Regions from separate parts of the Homo sapiens genome. Here all the other regions are linked to region 4. The links come from fine-mapping of genetic effects on gene expression. A gene starts in region 4. Each other region holds a variant in brackets. All regions are shown on one strand. Distances are between the middles of the regions.

Region 1 (4,116 bases), 29 kb after region 4:
AAGTGAGTATCATGTGATTCTCGCTGCTTCTCTGGGGGGACGCTTGGCCACAGAAGAGGAGGCTATTTCTTACCATCTCCTGACTCCAGCATTTAGCTCTCACTCCTGTCCCCACAAGGCAGGTACCTCCTTCCGCCCCTTTCAGTGTTAGGGAGAGAAAGGAAAAGCAGCAGTAACAGCAAAGGAGCTATTATCTCTTCTGAAATACTGTAAATATCATCAATTCAAGCAAGTTAGAAGAATGAACTATCTGAATCAGTGGTTGTTGGGGGGAAATGGGGTTTTATTTCTTTCGGTACCTGTGGAAACTAGGTTGACTGAGTGTTGCCTGGTAGAAATCTTTAAGGACTTGCCTTAATACCAAGATGAGGAGAACTGTTAAGAATATTTGCTGCTGTTTCTGCTCCTAGAATGTTTACATATGTGCAGATACCACTAAGATCCTGGAACCTTCCAGATAGCTGGGTCCGGCTCATCTCTAGCCCCAGTTCATTCTGCCCACCACCAGCTCCAAATGAGCAGCTCTCCCACTGTGGCTTTAAATCAGGGGCACCTCTAAGACTCCACTTCCCCCTCTCTCCCTCCACGGTAGGGTCAGCAGGGAGCCAGTGGCCTGGTATTGATGGCTTTGTCATTAAGCTTGGAGGATTGGAGGACGGGGGCTGCTGTTGATTTAACTCCAGGCACTGCCTCCACAATCTTCTTTCAAATTAGGCCATTTTGCCCATCTTATTTGGATGCCTTCACACTAGTAAAAGCCTCATATCTCCCAAAGTAGTCAGCATTTTTTTTATGAGGGACAGATTTTTATTTTCAGCCCTGCAGCTTCTTAGTTCAGCATTAGAGACTCTACTTGGTTTATTTTATTTTGTAAAAGAAAAAAAGCCCACAACACCTCCAATATCCAGGCTGGTGGCTTCCCTACTGAGTTACAAGACGACCTTGTTGGCAGAGCACTGAAATACTCGGGCAGACAGAGAGTGCTCACCGGGGAAGGCCACAAGTGCTACAGTGGCCAGGAACGCGGCCGTTTCATTAAGCAGCGCTTAGCAGTTAGGGTCTAGCGGTGCCCATGTTAGGCCCCAAGTCCATTTGACAGATGTTTCCATTTTCTCCAGGCAATGTAAATACTGCCCCGTGATTTATGGGCAAGAGGGAGGGCAAGTAATTATTTGCTGCTTGCCTCCAGGACACACACCTAGTATTCAGTGTTATTAGCCGCAATTGCTTCCAGTCGGCTGCAGATTTTATTCAGTTTAATGTGACCGGGACTTTTTTATAACTCTACCTAGTGGGTTTTAGGGCTGGGGTTTGACAGCACAGACTTGGTGAAAACACCAGAGACTAAACATTATGGAAAGATAAGGTGACCTGAATCTTGCTAACACCATTGGCTGCTTCCATACGCGGGTCTTTAATAAGCATTCTGATTTCAAGTTGGTTTCTGCCCCACTACCAGGTGTTGTATATTTTTTTCATTGTATATTTGTAAGTAGACTTTAATATATAATACCATTTCCCCCCTTTTCCCTCTCCTCCTATTTTCCCTATTTAAGGAACATTTTGGAGCTGATTGAGTTCTTTGAAGATGACACAAGGTTTTACTTGGTCTTTGAGAAATTGCAAGGAGGTACTTACCGTTGAGTATGTGTGT[G/A]GACTTCTGATTAAGACCCAGGGTGGTGATCATCCATCATGAATCCCAGAGACTTCCAAAACGAGTCAAGCTAATAAAAAGGATGAAGGACTTAAAAACTGCCCTTGATTTGGGAGAAGGGAGGCCGGAGGGAAGGATGATAATTAGCATTTTGCAGAGCTTAGAATGTCACCTGTGTGGGTATTTTATAAATGCCTTTTCATTATAATAGGAGTCATATATAGATACATTTAGTCATCGATTTATCAATCCCGTTTTGACATGTTCACTGTTTAACTACATTAATTATGGGGTGGAAGCTCTCAAATACATTGCGAAGTCTAGAAAGGCTAAAACAGAGGAGAGGAGGGTCCTATTGTTTGGGACACAGACCCAGGATAAAGGGGAAGCCTGAGAATGTGCCATCCTTCAGATGGAAAGATGCCATCACCCACACACATAATCACTGGGGTGTATACTTAAGTTGCTTTTCTGACATAATGAGGTGGGGTAGAGAAACCCTTTCCCTTCCCATCACTCCCCCAATCTTAGGACACACTTGCAGGGATGTCTGGAACTGCATGGAGGGCCACACGGAGGGGCTTGGTGGTTGAGGGAGCGTGCTTTAGAAACCAACACAGCTAAAGCTTATGTTATGTCTAGCTGCATCACTTACTAGCCATGTGATCTTGGGCAAGTCACTTAACCTTTTCTAAACAATATTCCCTTCTATAAAATAGAGATATTGATAGCACCTACCTCACTGGGTTGCTGTGAAGATTAAATGAGATAATTCATGTGAAATGCTTAGGACAGTGTCTGGTAGGCACTAAGGGCCCAATAAATGTTGGCTGCTAATATTATTAAAACAATTTGGTATGCTGGGGGATGTCTTAGAAGTATGTAGAGTAGACCAGGTACAGTGGCTCACGCCTATAATCCCAGCACTTTGGGATGCCAAGGTGGGCAGATCACTTGAGGTCAGGAGTTCAAGACCAGCCTGGCCAACATGGTGAAACCCGGCTCTACTAAAAATACAAAAATTAGCTGGGTGTGCTGGCACATGCCTGTAATCCCAGCTACTCAGGAGGCTGAGGCAGAAGAATCGCTTGAACCTGGGAGGCAGAGGTTGCAGTGAGCCGAGATCGCACCACTACACTCCAGCCTGGGCAACAGAGTGAGACTCTGTCTCAAAAAAAAAAAAAAAAAAGTATGTAAAGCATTATTCTCTGCTTTTCCTTTTAACAGATTTGGAAACGAGGCTCACTACAGCAGAGCAAGCTAGGACCTAGTCATGAGCCGGTTTTCTGGGAATGTTCCCTAGCACATTGGGATCCGTTGTTTAATCTGGCAAGCGAACAATCTTTGGCAGTTCTTCCCCTTCTCTCATGCCCTCCCCATCCCCCCTAAAAAACAGTAGACATGTGCCATTTTTAGGACAGAGAGATAATACCTTCAGCCCAGAAATGCTGGCTTCTAGTAGTAAACATAAACCACATGAAGCCAAGCCACATGTTCCTGCCTGTGTCTGCCCCTGCACCACCCAATAACACATGACTGACTGTTAATTACATGTTTGAAATGCTACATGCAGATGGGATCCTCTGTCGCCATATCAGTAAACTTAATGTAGCTTATTGAGGCCAGACCCAGTGTGGTTGGCTCAAGAGAGTCCATCCCTGCAGCAGTCAGACCACAAGTCCTGCTGGGGGATGTCTGCACAGACTCGGAGGCCTGACTGACGCCCTGGGCCTAAGTCCTGGCCTCACCCCTTACTGGTGCGTAATCTTGGGCAAGTTGCTCAACCATTTTTCTTTTTGGCTTCAGGATCTCCCTCTGTAAAACGAGAATAAGTGTACTACCCATTTTGTCCAATTGTGGTGAGAATAAGACAGTTTATTTCAAGAGTATTCCATAGCACATGGCACTAGTAACTACTCAGTAAATGTTAGCCATTGCCAACAAAACAATAATGAATGGGAAAGCTCAGGCGGAAAACCCATTTTTCCCCCCTTTTCCCAGGCCTTTACATGTCTGGCAAGGGTGTGGCATTTCCATTTGAAAGTTTGTGCTCTTGTTTGGATCAGAGATCAGATGCAGGGGAGAAAACGTTGCTGCAGAAAGGCCCCCTCAGCTCCAAGTGCCTTCAGTTTTATTCCTTTTGATTGCAGAAGCCAAATCAGCCTCAGCATCATTAGTGTTTTTTGGCCCTATTTATAGTTGTTCTCTCTCGCTTCTGAGCTCCTCATAGACAGGTACAGAAGAGAGTAGTCCAGTTTTGTTTAACAGACATACAAGCTGGTACCTCCTCCGTACCAGGCCCCACACTTGGAGCTGGACAGGTAGTGATGAGTCAGCGATGAATCCCTATGTCCCCACCCCAAGTTTTCCAAACTTGGGAAAACTTGGCCTCTAAGAAGTTATACGGCCAGGCGCAGTGGCTCACGCCTGTAATCCCAACAGTTTGGGAGGCTGAGGCAGGC
Region 2 (4,116 bases), 53 kb after region 4:
CTCTCAGCCTACAGAGGAGATAGAACAAGAACAGGGCAGCCATGGAGGCAGGTGGAGGAACAAGAAGTTGAGCCTGGCAATATGAGACTGCAGATGCAGTGCAGAGAGGGGGCATCCAAAGAGAGGCCAGGGAGGCTGGCGACGGGACTCCGAGCAGGATTATGGGACCCTAGGAATTGTGCCCAGGTGCAGGGCCAGGCCGGGGCCATATTCTGAGACTGGGGGGTCCCCAATCCATAAAGGGCCAAATAACGCAATGAATGATAAAGGCTGGAACTGGGGGCCGGGGCAGGGCTCAGGGCTAGGCTGCATTGGTGACCACTGCCCAGCCTTGGGGTGGGGCATCCTGCAAGTAACTCAGACAGGCTGGGTGCAGGTGCTCAGTTCAGCGGATGGGAAGGCACCAACCATGACCCAGCCTCCCACTCCCGGCACCTAGCCCCTACCAAGTCCTCTTCTCTACCCTACCCCTTAGGTGTTTTCCTCCTGCCCACACCAGCACCACCACTGCTCTTCCCTTTCACTCCCAGTCGGGATCCCCAAGGTGGCTAGAAGGGTTCACTCTCCATTCCACTGGCCACTAAAAGGGGGGTGGGTACCAAGCCCACCTGAGGACAAGGGAGTCCCCTGAGATCAAGCCTCAAACTAGGACGCCCTCAGCCCTACCTGGGAGCCCAGAGGTGGACAGGATGGGGATGGGATGGGCAGGGGTAGGGAGCAGACTTGGAGGGATGCCTCTCCCTGTCCGCTTTCCATACCAGGTGCAGTTCCTGTCTCTTGAGCCTCCTGCTGTGTGTCTATCTCAGACTCCAAGCAGAGACCCCAGGTGCACCTCCAGGCCAAAGGGCAGAGCACATTACAGCGGGCCCTGAGCATGTGATCAGGAGTCTCCTCACATCCCTGGCTTCTGAACGACATGCAAAGCCACCAGCTCGTTCTTCCTCCTCAGGAACCAGCAGTGGAACCTGGGCTGACTGCCCGCTGGGCCCTGGGACCCAGACAGCCACTCACATTGCAACCTCATGAATAACTCAGCACCTCCCTGCTGCCTACATCTCTGAGGAGCCTGTGGCCGCTGGACCAACTCCCCCCTCACCCTGCCTCTCATTGCTTTAAATTTTCATAGGCTGAGGTTCAGTGGCAAGTAAGTGGCTCTAGGAAGCTGGGGCAGGATGTCCTGGGCAGGGGAGCTTGAACTCTCCTGGGTGGAGGCTGGCAGGGAAGGATCCTATGGAACAGGCCCAGCTCCCTAGAACTCTGGCAGCCAAAGCAGAAATGTAGCCAGACAGGAGTCCCAAGGGTGGGCTTCAGCTTCAGAGGGCTTTGAGAGAGGAAGAGTAAGCTGGGTGACCTCGTACAGATCCCTGGTCAAGGTGGGACTGGGGGGCCCGTAGTGGAGCAGTGGAATAGGACTGCAGATAAATCCCAGGGTTCCCCACCTATCATCTTACTGCCCAGAAACTCCTACCCTGAAGTTGGAGCGCCAACAAGGAGACATCCAAGAGCCCAGAAACTTCCAGGACTTTTCTGGGGCCAGACTGCACC[G/A]GCTGGAGGCAGTGCCCCGGGTGGGCCTGCATGGACATCCCCATCAGCAGCAGAGACTTCCGCGGCCTGCAGCTGGCCTGCGTGGCTCTCGGGCTGGTGGCTGGCAGCATCATTATCGGCATCTCCGTATCCAAGGCTGCAGCTGCCATGGGCGGTGTCTTTATTGGCGCTGCTGTTCTGGGTGAGCAGGGGCTGGGCTGGGATAGGGAAGGGAGATTCTGGAGGTGGGGGCAGGGGCATCGTCAGGTGAACAAGGAACAGGGAAGGGCTGGGTCAGCAGGAATCAGCTGGGGAGAACGGAAGCTAGAGGTGTGAGCAAGGCCGCCATCAGGGGCACAGGCGGGAGAGGAGCGACGCGCTGGGGCTCCTTCCAGCCACAGGGAGGAGAAAAGAAGGAGAGCTGGCCGTCACACTCTTTTCTGGCTACTCCCACTGGCTCTCCAGCCCCAAGCTCTAGGCTCCTGGATTTGTGGTGGGATTCATCAGCCTATCTGGGCGGAACAGGGGGTTGATGGCGGCAGGTAAAAGGACAGAGCTCCTGAGGACTCTCTGAGCCAAGACAGGCTCCAGCTCAGAAAAAGGGTTTCGTCTTCTTTCCCTGTTTGCCTCCACAGCAGCTGTGTCCATCTATCTGTGTGGGGCCACGCCCACTGATTGCCCCGCAGTGACGCTGAATGCCATCCCTCACCTCACCTCACCTCACCCCACCCCCCGCCCCCGCCCAGGCCAAAGGCAGGACCAGAAGCATCAGGCTAGGGGGCTTTAGGTATCTACACCTGCGGGTTCTGGCACAGATGCTCATCGGGGGATGGAGCGGGGGCGGGCAAGGCAGGACTGGCTCCACTGCTCCTGCTCCCCAGGTCTGGGTGGGGAGGAACATGCTGAGGACAAGCACCCAGTCCGGCCCTGGGGGCCCTGGGGAAGCGTGGGGACAGCAGAGACGCAGTGGTGGTGTCAGCCAGGCTCATTCCAGCAACCTGCTCTTCACTTAGGAACGGTGGAGCCAGGCAGGTGGGGCCTTCACAGTCTGTAGCCTCTTCCCCAAACAGGCACTGCCCCCACCAACCCAGATGCACACACCCACAGGCTCACATTTACACACTCACAGTCCCAAGTCTGCACACTGTGCTCCTCCCATGCACACCCATATCTCACAAACCACCCCTCAGGCTCCCAGCCCACCCACAGCCTCAACACTCACCAGGCTCCTCCCCATCACAGAACCCCCTGTGTCTCTTCTCAGGGCTCCTCATCTTGGCCTACCCCTTCCTGAAGGCTCGGTTCAACCTGGACCACATCCTGCCTACCATAGGTGAGGCCTCTCCCTGACCCCAGCAGACCCCTCTGCCAAGGACTGTTCCAGACCCTTTGTGTGCTCGTCTGTGACCCACTGTGTGGCTGGGATGAGCCCATGTGTGAGACCGCGCTAGCTGTCTGTGTTAGAGCTGCTGTGTGTGTGTGTGTTGTGCAGGCGTTGCCATGACTACAGAACGGCAGAATCCAGCCTGCAGCAAAGGTGCCTGAACCAGCTCAGAGCTGGGAAGTTCATCTCCCTTGAGAGATTTTATGACTCCCCAAAGCCTCCAACATCTCTAAATAACTCCCTCTCCATCCCTGAGCCCCCATGAAAGACCCTCTATTTCCCCTAAGACCCCACAGCCTCTGCACAGCTCCCACCTCATCTCAGCTCCCCACATACAGGCTGCCATCTCCACCAATCCTATGGGGCTTCTCATGGCCCCAGTTCTCCCCGGGACCTCACCTCCCTAAAAGATCTGCCATTTTCTCCTTCAAGGGCCCAGTTCTTTTTCTCCTGCCCAAATCAGCCCAGATCATGTGAGACCTAAAGGAATGCAGTGGAGCAAAGACAGCATCAGGGATGGAGACTAGATAGCAAGAAGGACTTCCCTTCCCAACCTAGGCTTGATTTGGGGAATGGCTCAGTAATCAGGGGGCTTGGGGTGGTCTCATCCTGCAGGGAGCCTAAGAATCCATCCCCATCCAGGGGCAGACCACGGGGAAGGAAGATCCAGCACCAATGGCAACAAGGAAGGTAAGTTCCAGAAATTCCCGAGTCCATCCTTCTTTTTTCTTTTTTTTTTTTGAGACAGAGTTTTGCTCGTGTTGCCCAGGCTGGAGTGCAATGGCATGATCTCGGCTCACTGCAACCTCCACCTCCCGGTTTCAAGCAATTCTCCTGCCTCAGCCTCCCGAGCAGCTGGGATTACAGACATGTGCCACCACGCCTGGCTAATTTTTGTATTTTTAGTAGAGACGGGGTTTCTCCATGTTGGTCAGGCTGGTCTCGAACTCCCAACCTCAGGTGATCCACCCGCCTCGGCCTCCCAAAGTGCTGGGATTATAGGCGTGAGCCACCGTGCCCAGCCTGAATCCATCTTTCATCTCCCCTCCCTGACTGAGCAGCTCCATGGGGCCCGGGAGCCTTGAGCGGCATGCCGAAGGGGCCTCCCCAGTGCGGGGAGACGGTACTGCTGGCACTTTCCCCAGGTGCACAGTCAGACCCTTGCTGCTCCAAGCTGAACTGATCTCCTCTTGCTTACTCTGAGGGCT
Region 3 (4,116 bases), 22 kb after region 4:
CAGCCCTTCCGATGGAGGAGCTATGGGAGGAGAGGATGCCGTAGGCTCCATAGGCACTCAAGTCCGTGCTCTTGGACATGAAGTAATTTGGGGCTATTTTGAACCCCAGCCCTATTGCTACCTTCACAGAGGCTGTCTCCACTCCAGGCCATTTGTGCCCTGTGTGCATCCATAGCGATGTTGCTGAGCCTATGACTCATCTGCATGGTCCCCCACTCCCAACCCCCTTCTTGCCTAGCTCTCTCGGTTTTGCCTTTCTGATGCTGAGGCTGGAGGATGTCACAGGTGGGGTTCTGCCTATGGAGTCATTGTTCTGTTTGGGGAATATGGTTTGACCAGTGGCAGATCTAAATCCACGCGCTAATGAGCTTGGTTAAAGCAGGCTTCCGCTGGCCTCTTTTAATCTAGCCTGCCTGTCTGAGCTCCTTTCCACAGTTAATGATCTCCCATAATGGCTTTGCCTTTAGTTTTTCCTCCTAGGTCAAAACAAATCAATAGTCTTCACAGATATTTAAAAACCATCAGTGTAAACCTCCTGGGTCCTCCCCCACTACCTTTTTTTTTTCCTTCTGGGTAAATTTACAGCTTGATCAGTACAGTGATGTTTCCCTTACATCTCCTCTTATCTCCTAGAGATGGGCAGTAGCGAACCCCTTCCCATCGCAGATGGTGACAGGAGGAGGAAGAAGAAGCGGAGGGGCCGGGCCACTGACTCCTTGCCAGGAAAGTTTGAAGGTTGGTCACACAACTTCCCTATATCTGGGCCTGCAGCTTCCCAAGCATGGGAGGAGCATCCCGGGAGCCACAGGTCCGATCACAGAATGCGTCAAGTTAGAGCCAGATGGTGGTTATCTGTGTGGTAGGGAGATAAGATGGGGATGAGGGAGTTTACACAGGGCATTACAGAAAGAGAGCAGGGATGGAAAAAGCTCTCAGATGATGCACTGGCCTCCTGTGAATGGCTCAGGTACTGCTTCCTTTTCAGGGAGCAGGAAGACCCATCTATCAGTGGCATTGCCTGGGGTCTTCCTTTTTTCAGATGTGATTCTTCCCTCAGCTATTCCTGGAGGGGCTGCTGAGAGATAGAACTATATAAGAGGAAGAGAGAAACACCAAAGGCCATGGCCGCAAATGAAACTTCAGTCTCCTGTAAGCAGAGAATTTGTCTCTCAGATTGTAGCTACTTATGCTGTGTGTGTTTGACTACATTTTAAAGAATACGTGTTGTGTTCAGTAGAAACGATGTTGGGTCATCAGACATTTTTTGACACTCTCTGTGTGCGAGGCACTAGGCTCAGTGTGGGTCCTGTTATCACTGGGCATGTGATGGGGTGATTGGACACTTGTGCAAAGCACCAAGAGGATCAGTAGCTACTCCTAGGAGTAACGTGCCCCACTTCATCTGTTTTGTTTTCTTTCGTTGTGAGGTCTGAAGTAGCTTCGCCTCTTGGTCCCTCCTTCCAGCCTTCCAGACACACTAGTGAATTGGCTGTTCTGTAAAGTGGTTCCAATAACAAGCACTTTATCGGTTGGGAATATGGGACCTCCAGCCACCCACCTATCCTGATATGTGTAAAGGGCTAATGCCAATGTGTCCATTGTGAGAAGCATGTCATTTAAAACACTTACGAATAACAGTGTGCCATCTGCTCTTATAAACAACTGAAAGACCAAACCGTGATGGAACCAAGAAGGTACTTTCAGCAGGGGTTTTTTGTTTGCCTTTAACTCAAACAGCAGGGGTGTGTGTCTGTGTGTGTGTGTCTGTGTGTGTCAGGGTATGGGGATGGGGGAGAGACAAAGATCCCAAGGTATTCAAATAGTTTCCTAATCAACAGCTCTTTTGCTCTTTCAGTTAACACAAGAGAGTACTTCCTATTTTTAAGGACAGCTTGTGCAATGACAGGACTTCTCCTGACTGAGAGTGATAAAATCTAATTCATGGTTGAAATGTCTTCTGCTCAGGCTGTGGGTTTCAATGCTAGGTGCCTCAAGAGGAAAAGGCTGAAGAATGGAGGCCGAGTGGGGATGAGGTCAGGCAGCTAGTGCTGTGATGGAGATGTAGCCTCCTTTGGAAGGGGCTCAAAGAGCTGTGCTCTTTGTGAGCTTGGGCAGGTCATCTAGATGTTCCTTTAACCCAGGTCTATTACTCTGTTAGAACAACTATGACTCAGTACCCTAAAAACCTCAAGG[T/C]GTCCTTTGCATCCTACTTCTATTTCCTGTGGGTGACTTCTGGAGACTTCTCAGAAGCCTCCAATGACTTCCATGTATGGGGTATAAAATAGAACAGTGTTTTATTCTCCTTTGTATAGCCAGTGCTTACACAGAACTTGGCACATAATAGGTGCTCAGTAAATGAGTAAATGAATATTCATTCAAATCATACCACTTCTCCTCTGATGATCCTCCAGATTCTCTGACCAATTTTTTTTTTTTTTTTTTTTTTTTTTTTTTGATATGGGGTCTCACTCTGTCACCAGGCTGGAGTGCAGTGGCACGATCTTGGCTCACTACAACCTCCGCCTCTCGGGTTCAAGCGATTCTCCTGCCTCAGCCCCCGAAATAGCTGGGACTTTAGGCGCGTGCCACCACACCCAGCTAATTTTTGTATTTTTAGTAGAGACGGGGTTTCCCACATTGGCCAGGATGGTCTCGATTTCTTCACCTCTTGATCTGCCCACCTCGGCCTCCCAAAGTGCCGGGACTACAGGTGTGAGCCACCATGCCCAGCCTCTCTGAACAGATTTAACCCTTTCTTCCCCCAACTTTTTTTTTTAACTGTACTTTGTCCCTCTGTGATAGTATTTACCAATGCCTGGTTTATTCTGGGGTCACCTGTGTATGTGTCTGTCTTCCCCACTGGACTGCGACCCTTAGAGGAGAGGGATCATGCGTATATATATTTTAGAGATGGGGTCTTGCTATGTTGGCCAGATTGGTTCTGAACTCCTGGCCTCAAGCAATCCTCCTGGCTTGGCCTCCCAAAGTGCTAGGATTACAGGTGTAAGCCCCTGCACCTGGCCTTTATTTTATTCCTTACTCTGTTATGCTGTCTGGCACATAGTAGATATTCAGGAAGTATGTGCCGAATTGAGACCCTTTTGCTAACCTCATCGCTAAAATGAGGAACAGGATGCCTTGTATGTGGTCTTGTTGTTGAGAAACTGGGTCCTCAGGTGGCTGGGAAAGCTACTTGTCTTCCTTGTCACTGAGTGCTAGAGTCATTGGGTGCCTGTGTCGTCTGATCAGGGAAGCTGAGCCACAAAAGTTCTTCCCATCTGAGCTTGCAGTAGGGTGACTCATCTTGTTATTCCTCTCATCCATTTCACCTCTAGATATGTACAAGCTGACCTCTGAATTGCTTGGAGAGGGAGCCTATGCCAAAGTTCAAGGTGCCGTGAGCCTACAGAATGGCAAAGAGTATGCCGTCAAAGTGAGTGTCTCAGCTGAATGCCAGGCTTTACTTTGCAAATAGTCATTCCTAGCTCATCTTGAACCAAATAAATGTTATATTCCATAAGAATGGGGACTCTGAAGCTGTATTCACTGGATTCAAATCTTGGTTTCTCTACTTACTGTGTACCTCGGGCAAGTTACTTAACTTCTCTGTCCTTCAGTTTTCTCATCTGTAAAATGGGTATAATACTAGAACCTATGTAGAATTGTTGTGAGGATTAAATAAGTTAATATAGGTAAAGTGCTTAGCACAATGCCTGGCTCATAGTAAGTTTCTCATTATTCTGACAAATGAAGTCAGCTTCAGGGAGTGGACAACCAGATTTGGAATTAGAAGGCCTACCTGAATATCTATTTTGACAAACTATAACTGTTTGACTTTGGGCAAGTCATCAAATGTCCGTAAGCCTCAGTTCCTACATCTCTAAATGATGATACCTGCCCTTCAGTCTCCTGAGGCAGTTATGAAGATGAAAATTAAAATATCCTGGGAGAGGTGGAAACACTTTACACGTCACAAAATGCTATCCAAGTGTTAGATGTTAGCATGATAGTGAGGATTAAAAACTAAGGTGACTGATTTGGTAACATCTGAATGATGTCTCAGAAAAAAAAAATTAAAAGAAGAAAACAAAACTAAAGCGACTGAGCACTCAGTTT
Region 4 (4,116 bases):
TCCCATGGGGCAAAACCTAGTAACAAAGGGTCCTGGGAGGTAGAGTGGCAGCTTGGTTGAGAAGTCAGGCTGGGCTTTATTTTCCTGTTGGCTCAAGGTCCATAACAAAGCTGGGCATAGTGGCTCTTCCCTGTAATCCCAGCACTTTGGGAGGCCAAGGTGGGAGGATCATTGAGCTCAGGAGTTCGAGACCAGCCTGGGCAACATGGCAAAACCCTGCCTCTAAAAAAATTCAAAAATTAGCCAGTCATGGTAGTGCATGCCTGTAATCCCAGCTACTCAGGAGGCTGAAGCAGGAGGATCACTTGAGCCCAAGCAGAGGTTGCAGTGAGCAAAGCTGGTGCCACTGCACTCCAGCCTGGGGAACACAGTGAGACCTTGTCTCAGAAAAAAAAAAAGAAAAAAAATTCCAAAACAATATTTGGAGCAGGGACCTAGGTAGTAAGCCATCCTCTCCAGCCTGGGGCAGAGCATCCACCTATTGAGTAAAGGATGCCGCATCACCCTCGGCTCCCATAAACACTGCAGCCTCTGAGGTTTCCTGTTGCCTCTCCTCCCTACCCCACAGCAAGCTGTGGAATATGTGGTGAAATAAGCCACAGTCATGACTAGAGCTCCACCTGCTTTGGGGGAGCCCTCCTTCCTCTGAGCACCCCCAGAGCCCTCAAAGATGTTAACTGAATTTGATTGCCATGTGAGGGACATAGCAACTTTGAGAACCTGGAACATAGGTCCTGAATCTCTTGGGCTATTGCCACAGGCAACAGGGAAGGGAACAGGCCAGCAGGGCCTCTGAAGACTTGAAGCTTGGATCGGCCTCCACGGAAGGTAATGAGTGGGAGAAGTCAGGATACATCGGGGCCCTCAGGTTGGACCGCAGGATTCCAGAAGGGAATGAACACAGAAGCTTGATCTTCCGCCTCTCCGGCCTTCACCCAGATTGGGAAATCTAGCAAAGTCCTGAATGTTCACTAATATTCCCAATCTCCTTCCATCATACAGATGAAAAGACAGCCCCGACAAGACAGGGAACAAATGTTTGTCAGGTGGATGATGGGAAGCAAGTCCCTGGGGCTCTTTAACTAGCTTGGCTTACCAAATCCTCACGATAATCCTGAGACAGGCAGGGAAGGGATGTTCACCTCCATCACTCGGAGTCAGCGCCTGAATTAAATCCCAGTCCACACTCTCATCCTTTCTCATCGCAGCTGCAGACTTGGGAAGGGGATGTGGGGAGACTGGTTGAGGCATTAACCTATTTACAGTTGTTTTTCCCCAAGAAATGAACTTTTAAAAGTTTTAAAAATTTTGAAATACTGGGGATAATGTTGTACTCAAGGAGAAACTCTTATGGTGAAATTCTAGGCACTCAGACTTTTAAAGAAATTGTACAGAATTGGCCCCCGTTTTAGAAAAGACTAGCAGCATTTCCCCACATATAAAAGGCATTTTAAAATTCCTTCCTGGCCTGCAGAAGCTCTCAGTACATGTTAATTACACCTGTCGCGCCCGGCCTCCTACCTTCCCGGGCTTCTCCACCCTCCATTCGGAAAAGAAAGCGCCGGAGGAGCTAAGCCCCACCCGCTTGCCAGCAATCTCCCCTCTCCCCGCCTCTTCCCTGTCACGCCTGCGCAGTTCGCTCAGCTCGAGCCCCCTGCCCTCAGGCGGCCCTGGGTAGCCATCAGGGCGCAGGCGCAGCTCCGCCCCCTCACCCTCCTCTCTGATCGGGCCCACCCCCTGGATCTAGCACCGCCTCTTCCGCGTTCTCGGAGGAGCGATCTGCAGGTAGGGGTGCGCGCGACCGCTCCCCGGCGGGAGCCAGCGAAGGTAAAAGCGAGACCTGCGAGGTATTCCTCCGAGCTAAATGGGGCCGGGGTCTGTGAGTGAGCTCGTGTGCCCGGAAGGGGGCAGTCAGGGCCTTCACGGCTGCCCGAGGTCACGACGCGATTCAGCTGCGGAGGGACAGCCTAAGGGGACGCTTTTCAGGACTGTCCCGAGCTGTCTGCGACCTCTGTGCCTGGGGTCGGGGCGTGGCCGGTGTCCGAGATGGCGCTTACTCTGTGGCCCGTTTGAGACTCAGTCTCTCCCAGGGATCAGGACCGAGGCTATGGCTGGGCGCAGGGCTCAGGCAGTCCAGTATCATGAATAGTTTTTCACGTGAGGAATTTGTGAAATCTGTGTACTGCGTTATTTTTAAGTTAATTGTTTTCATTTATTTTCAGTATTTAAAGGCTCCTGCCTGTGTGGATGGCTGTCCACAGGGAAAGGTAATAAGAGTGTCAGGTGCACCCTGTCTTCTAGAGAGCTCCAAGCTCCCTGACAGTGGCAGATCAGAGGCAGGCAGGCTCACAGGAATGAAGTGTTGTTAGAAGTGCTCAACTTCAGGGTCAGGGAGTCCTGGGTTTAGATCTCATCTCTTCCACCTCTTAGCTGTGTGTCCTGGGGCAAGTCTGCTTCCCCTCCCAGAGCTTCACTTTCTTCCCTAGGAAATGGCCATAATAGGGTCATTGTGAAGGGTGAATAGGATTATATGGAAGTCACCTAGTATGGCGCCTGTCATGTAATGGGTGCTGAATACATGGTAGCTGTGATTTCTAGGAGCTTGGTCATTTTGGATTGGGGTACTTTAGAAAGGCTCTGAGAGAAGAGTTGTTGTGACCTGGGCCTTGAAGCCTCAGTGGGATTTACAGATGGAACTGACCCTGCAGAATGGGAAGGGCACCACTGCCCATGCGCCAGGCACATGCTGGACAGTAGGTGTAATGTCTCACTGGATCACCACCCATCAGCCAGGTGCTTTCAGCCCACTCTCCTTAGCTTCAGCCCTTCATTAGAGGGCTGGGCTGGAAGTGATGTGAAGAGGAAATCCAGGGTTGGGTTTTATATGGAACTGAGCCAGCTAGAGGCTTTGGTGCCCCCTCTGCCCATCTGCTCCCACCTCAACACTTCTCTCTCTGTAATCCAGAGAGTTGGTTAGGAGTCCTGTTACTCTGGTATTTTGCAGATGTTGACAGTTGTGGGGGATGGCAACTCAGATTGCATGAAGCGAAGCCATGGGAGAGGGAAGCTCTGTGAACAGGAGCTGTCAGAGCCCAGCACGTGCTTAGAAAGTGCATGTGGTCTCCTGTAATGTGGTCCCAGAGTAATTGAATTACTTAGTTCCTTTTGCATCCTCTTCATGGGTGCCCTTGTGCTCTTCCTGAGACACTACTCGGAAACCTTGGTGGGCATCATTGCCTACTATATAGAGCAGTGGTGTCCAATCTTTTGGCTTCCCTGGGCCACATTGGAAGAAGAAGAACCATCTTGGGCCACACATAAAATACACTAACATTAACAATAGCTGATGAGCTTTAAAAAAATTGCAAAAAAATCTCAGTGTTTTAAGAACGTTTATGAATTTGTGTTGGACCACATTCAGAGCCATCCAGGGCCGCGGGTTGGACAAGCTGGATGTAGAGTTTGGACTCCAGCCTCAGACAAGTTCCTGCACAATTTGTTCCCACACCTCTCCCCTCCCTGTTTCCCTTGGTTTTCCCAAACCTGCAACCTGTGCTTCAGTCAAAATAAACTAGTTGTCTCTGTTTCTCCTTTTTTTTTGAGATGGAGTCTCACTTTGTCACCCAGGCTGGAGTGCAGTGGCACAATCTCGGCTCACTGCAACCTCCACTTCCCAGGTTCAAGTGATTCTCCTGCCTCAGCCTCCTGAGTAGCTGGAATTACAGGCATGAGCCACCACACCCGGCTAATTTTTGTATTTTTAGTAGAGACGGGGTTTCGCCATGTTGGCCAGGCTGGATTCAAACTTCTGACCTCAGGTGATCCGCCTGCCTGGGCCTCCCAAAGTGCTGGTACTACAGATGTGAGCCAACGTGCCCGGCCAAATCTCTGTTTCTCAAACACTCCCTGCATGTTCCTGCTCGAGCCTTTGCTTATATTCTCTCTTCCTGGATTTCCCTCCTCCTCCTCATCTTTCAAGGCTTACATCTCTTACATCTCATGTGGCCTCCATGGTGAAGCTTTTCTGAGCCTTCTGCTGGATTAGTTGTTCCCCTTTCCATCTTCTGTAGCAAAGGCTGACCCTCTAATATAGCTCTCATCATAGTCTGCCTAGGG
Region 5 (4,116 bases), 41 kb after region 4:
CTGCGGTGTGACAGCCACGGAGCCATGCACCCGTACAGCCATGCCTGGCTCCTCTTGCCCCGTAGTTTCTTATATCTGTGACCCTGTCTTCTGTTTTCCTTTTCAGGTGTCTCCAGTGAAAATCTGTGACTTTGACTTGGGCAGTGGGATGAAACTGAACAACTCCTGTACCCCCATAACCACACCAGAGCTGACCACCCCAGTACGTATGCTTCCTCTGGGCTCCTAAGTATTTGGAGTGTTTCCCTGATCCAGAGCTGGGAGGTCCAGAACAGAGGGTTAAGGATGGAAAACCAAGTGGACCTATCTTCCTGCTGCCTGAGTGATCATTTTGCTTGCTGCTCTGTGTTCGTGGCTCTCAAGCCTCCCCTGACCCCTTAGTTGCTAACGAAACTGACACTTGGACTGTTAGTTGGGTTGGGTCCTCTCTGCTGATGAAGAGACAAATTATATCTATAAGCACAGGCTGGCCGTTTGCAATGGCTCATGCCTGTAATCCTAGCACTTTAGGAGGTTGAGGCAGGCAGATCACCTGAGGTCAGGAGTTTGAGACCAGCCTGACCAACATGGAGAAACCCCATTGTACTGAAAATACAAAATTAGCCAGGCATGGTGGCGCGCACCTGTAATCCCAGCTACTTGGGAGGCTGAGGCAGGAGAATCGCTTGAACCCGAGGGGTGGAGGTTGCGGTGAGCCGAGATAGCACCATTGCACTCCAGCCTGGGCAACAAGAGCAAAACTCCGTCTCAAAAAAAAAAAAAAAAAAAAAAAAAAACAATAAAAAAAACACAGGCTGAGCCCTGACTCCTGACCCAGGTGAAAATGGACCCTACTCCCAGGCCAGCCCTTTTGCATATGAGCATTTGGGTAGTTCTGTAAGTCCTATTCCCACTGCTGAAGGCACAGCGCAGCCCCCTTGTAATGGGGGATGGAGAGCTGTTCTCCCTGACTGGACAGGATAGTCTCTCTGTGGTGGGAACTGTGAGGTCTCAGGCTATATGCACATGGGATCGCTTGGCCAAGTTAGCCTGTTTGCTTCTCTGATTTCACATTTCATGACCAGATGGTGCTGCTTGGAGCTACTTCTTCCTAAAACATCTCTTGTATAACTAATAGAGTATAATTATGATTCTTTTGAGATTTGTATGCTTCACAAGTAAATTTTCCTAATAACCCTTTTTTTTTTTTTTTTTTTTTGAGACAGAGTCTTGCTCTGTTGCCCAGGCTGGAATGCAGTGGCGTGATCTCGGCTCACTGCAAGCTCTGCCTCCTGGGTTCATGCCATCCTCCTGCCTCAGCCTCCCGAGTAGCTGGGACTACAGGCGCCCGCCACCACGCCTGGCTAATTTTTTGTATTTTTAGTAGAGACGGGGTTTCACCATGTTAGCCAGGATGGTCTCGATCTCCTGACCTTGTGAACCACCCGCCTCGGCCTCCCAAAGTGCTGGGATTACAGGCGTGAGCCACCACGCCTGGCCCCTAATAACCCTTTTAAGACATGCCCTTTAAGGGCATATTTAATATGCCTGTGTTGTATCTTATTCTAAACAACATTATCAGGAATGTTTCTTTCTTAGCTTCTAACACACTGGACTACCTTGTTTTCAAAGTCATTAATTCTAATTGACAATAACAAAGAAAATATCCTCTCTTGAGAACACTTACCATCTTTCAGTCAAATTAGTTTTGCAGGGTGTGTGGAGGCGGGAGGTGGTTGTTTCTTGGTGAGCCTGAAATAATGAAGAGTGGAGCAAAAAGAACGTGTTTTATTCCTATCAGCCGCTTTCTACACAAGGGTGAGAGAAAGGAATATTGGATTCTGGTCCTAGGGCTGCCATTGATGTGCTCAAACAGATCCCTGTCCCGTTCTTGGCCTTGCCCTTGCCATCTATAAATGGGAGGGGTGGGAAGGTTGGATTTGTTCTAAGAGCTTTGTAGCTTTGACGGTCTCTTAATTGTTACACTTCCTGCTCTGAGCTAGCAGGGGAGCACGACAGGATTCACTTTAAGAAATCTTGCTGTGTGGAACTGGATCTCCTTCCAGAGCCACATTCTTGGTGCATTTAAGTACCTGTACATGAAATATCTGTTTATAGGAAGCTGAAGCAGGGGGAGATTCCTGGAACTTCTTGGCCAAGGGTCTTTGCCTACTGGAGGAGGAACTGGAAGGATAAGGTGACCTGAACTGCTCCTCTGGATGATGGAAAATGATG[G/A]AGCTCAGTCTGCAGATGCCTTGGTGGCATCAGGCGGCTCACTGGCTGGCCTTCCTGATCTGTATCTCATCCTTCCAGCCTCCTGCTCCAGTCCCATCACAGTCTGCTCTCTGCCATCCCCTCTGCTGTAACTAAGCCTCTCTGTTCTCTGCCATCTCCCCCTCCCCCAACCCTGGCCCCCACAGTGTGGCTCTGCAGAATACATGGCCCCTGAGGTAGTGGAGGTCTTCACGGACCAGGCCACATTCTACGACAAGCGCTGTGACCTGTGGAGCCTGGGCGTGGTCCTCTACATCATGCTGAGTGGCTACCCACCCTTCGTGGGTCACTGCGGGGCCGACTGTGGCTGGGACCGGGGCGAGGTCTGCAGGGTGTGCCAGGTGAGTGCGGCCCCAGGGAGCACTGCGTAGACCCTGCTAGGGGTCAGTGTGGTTGGGGGATGCCAAGCAGGACTGGGCTGGGAGAGCGTTCCTGATCGGGATGGGGGCTCATAGTGCCCTCTCCCGCTCCTGTCACGGTGGCCACAAGGTAAAATAGAGATAATCAGACACTCCGCCCAGCTGGGAGTTCAGGGCAGGATTGTTAGAAGATCATGCCTGAACTGACTCTTTTTTTTTTTTTTTTTTTTTTTTTGAGATGGAGTCTCTCTCTGTCGCCCAGGCTGGAGTGCAATGGCACGATCTCGACTCACTGCAACCTCTGCCTCCTGGGTTCAAGCGATTCTCCTGCCTTAGGCCTCCCAAGTAGCTGGGACTACAGGCGCCGGCCACCACGTCTGGCTAATTTTTTATATTTTCAGTAGAGACGGGGTTTCATCGTGTTAGCCAGGATGGTCTCAATCTCCTGACCTTGTGATCCTCCCGCCTCGGCCTCCCAAAGTGCTGGGATTACAGGCGTGAGCCACCGCGCCCAGCCCTGAACTGACTCTTAAAGGGTGCATCCTGCCCTGCGGAAGAGGGACAAGAATCACAAGTAGAAGGAACAGCACGGGCATAGATGTGGGCACATGAAATAGCTGGAGTGTCTAGGAAGGAAGAGTGGAGTAGTAGGTCGGTGGTAGTGGGAGATGAGGCCTGAGAGGTTCACAGAGAGTCCTCTAGGAAGAGCCAAGGAATTTGGGCTTTGTTCTATGGGTGATCTCCACTCATCACCCATCCAGCCCACCAAGGGCATAGCCATCCTGGCCTGCCAAGGGCATTCTATATAGTTTGATCATCTAGGGGACAGTGCGGGGTGAGTCTGGGAAGAGGCCCCAGTCTGTGGCATCCCCAAGCCATGAGCTGCAGCTACAGCTGAGATCAATTGAAGCCGGTTGATCAAAACAATGACAGGCACATCCTGCCCATCCCTGGCAGTGTGGCCTCAGGAGGAATCTTTTGTACCTAGAACAAGCTGTTTGAAAGCATCCAGGAAGGCAAGTATGAGTTTCCTGACAAGGACTGGGCACACATCTCCAGTGAAGCCAAAGACCTCATCTCCAAGCTCCTGGTGCGAGATGCAAAGCAGAGACTTAGCGCCGCCCAAGTTCTGCAGCACCCATGGGTGCAGGGGGTGAGTGACTCCAGGGAGGGGTGTTTTCCACCACTTCAGGCCTGTGGCATGGCCACAAGGAAGCTGTCATGCCAGCAAGTGCTGAGCACCAGCCTTGTGGCTGGTGCAGCTGAAGAGGACAGCGTCTATCCCTGAGTGTGTAGAGTGAATCGACTCCTCCTGTTACCCCAGACTGAGCCCCTTATAGGCCATAGAGTTGGCTGTAAACTTGGCCACAGACTAAGCCCCAACAGAGTCCTCTGGGGATTTGGTACATGCACCCAGCCCCGCAAGCATCCTATTGTCATTTGAAGTCTGTAGCATCCTCCTCTTATATAGAAGCATCATTAGCTGAGGACACCCAGAAGTGAG

Which allele goes with the higher level. Positions count from the first base shown, and alleles are read on the strand shown. Sizes are in standard deviations (SD) of each study's normalised expression. Not every link is listed here.
For the expression in whole blood of the gene that starts at base 1,744 in region 4, T is the low allele of the variant in region 3 and C is the other (small effect, 0.22 SD a copy in GTEx).

What was found. PIP is the estimated chance that this variant, and not a neighbour inherited with it, causes the effect.
Region 1: its variant is fine-mapped to the expression of MKNK1 in lung (TOPMed, PIP above 0.99). The same link has a PIP of 0.9 or more in blood mononuclear cells, fibroblasts and whole blood.
Region 2: its variant is fine-mapped to the expression of MKNK1 in whole blood (TOPMed, PIP above 0.99).
Region 3: its variant is fine-mapped to the expression of MKNK1 in whole blood (TOPMed, PIP above 0.99). The same link has a PIP of 0.9 or more in T cells and blood mononuclear cells.
Region 5: its variant is fine-mapped to the expression of MKNK1 in whole blood (TOPMed, PIP above 0.99).

The regions. Positions count from the first base shown.
Region 1 is chr1:46,572,461-46,576,576 of GRCh38, reverse strand. MKNK1 (MAPK interacting serine/threonine kinase 1) reads left to right here. Exons shown (of 13, transcript NM_001135553.4): 5 at 1-2; 6 at 1,557-1,630. Among named protein-coding and RNA genes, the nearest start is that of KNCN, 23 kb to the right of the region's middle. The variant G/A (reference allele first, on the strand shown) is at 1,655.
Region 2 is chr1:46,548,675-46,552,790 of GRCh38, reverse strand. KNCN (kinocilin) reads left to right here and starts at 1,144. Exons shown (of 4, transcript NM_001322255.2): 1 at 1,144-1,726; 2 at 2,789-2,857; 3 at 3,524-3,598. The coding sequence starts at 1,576. All of the region lies in intron 3 of MKNK1-AS1 (MKNK1 antisense RNA 1), which reads right to left. RefSeq lists an enhancer at 2,382-3,021. The variant G/A (reference allele first, on the strand shown) is at 1,546.
Region 3 is chr1:46,579,847-46,583,962 of GRCh38, reverse strand. It overlaps MKNK1 (MAPK interacting serine/threonine kinase 1), which reads left to right. Exons shown (of 13, transcript NM_001135553.4): 3 at 634-735; 4 at 3,336-3,433. The coding sequence starts at 636. Among named protein-coding and RNA genes, the nearest start is that of MKNK1, 22 kb to the left of the region's middle. The variant T/C (reference allele first, on the strand shown) is at 2,194.
Region 4 is chr1:46,601,896-46,606,011 of GRCh38, reverse strand. It overlaps MKNK1 (MAPK interacting serine/threonine kinase 1), which reads left to right and starts at 1,744. Exons shown (of 13, transcript NM_001135553.4): 1 at 1,744-1,827. RefSeq lists a silencer at 1,563-1,782 and enhancers at 2,113-2,162, 1,930-2,430.
Region 5 is chr1:46,561,127-46,565,242 of GRCh38, reverse strand. It overlaps MKNK1 (MAPK interacting serine/threonine kinase 1), which reads left to right. Exons shown (of 13, transcript NM_001135553.4): 9 at 107-202; 10 at 2,400-2,594; 11 at 3,601-3,765. It overlaps MKNK1-AS1 (MKNK1 antisense RNA 1), which reads right to left. Exons shown (of 8, transcript NR_038403.1): 6 at 1,667-1,731. Among named protein-coding and RNA genes, the nearest start is that of KNCN, 12 kb to the right of the region's middle. The variant G/A (reference allele first, on the strand shown) is at 2,215.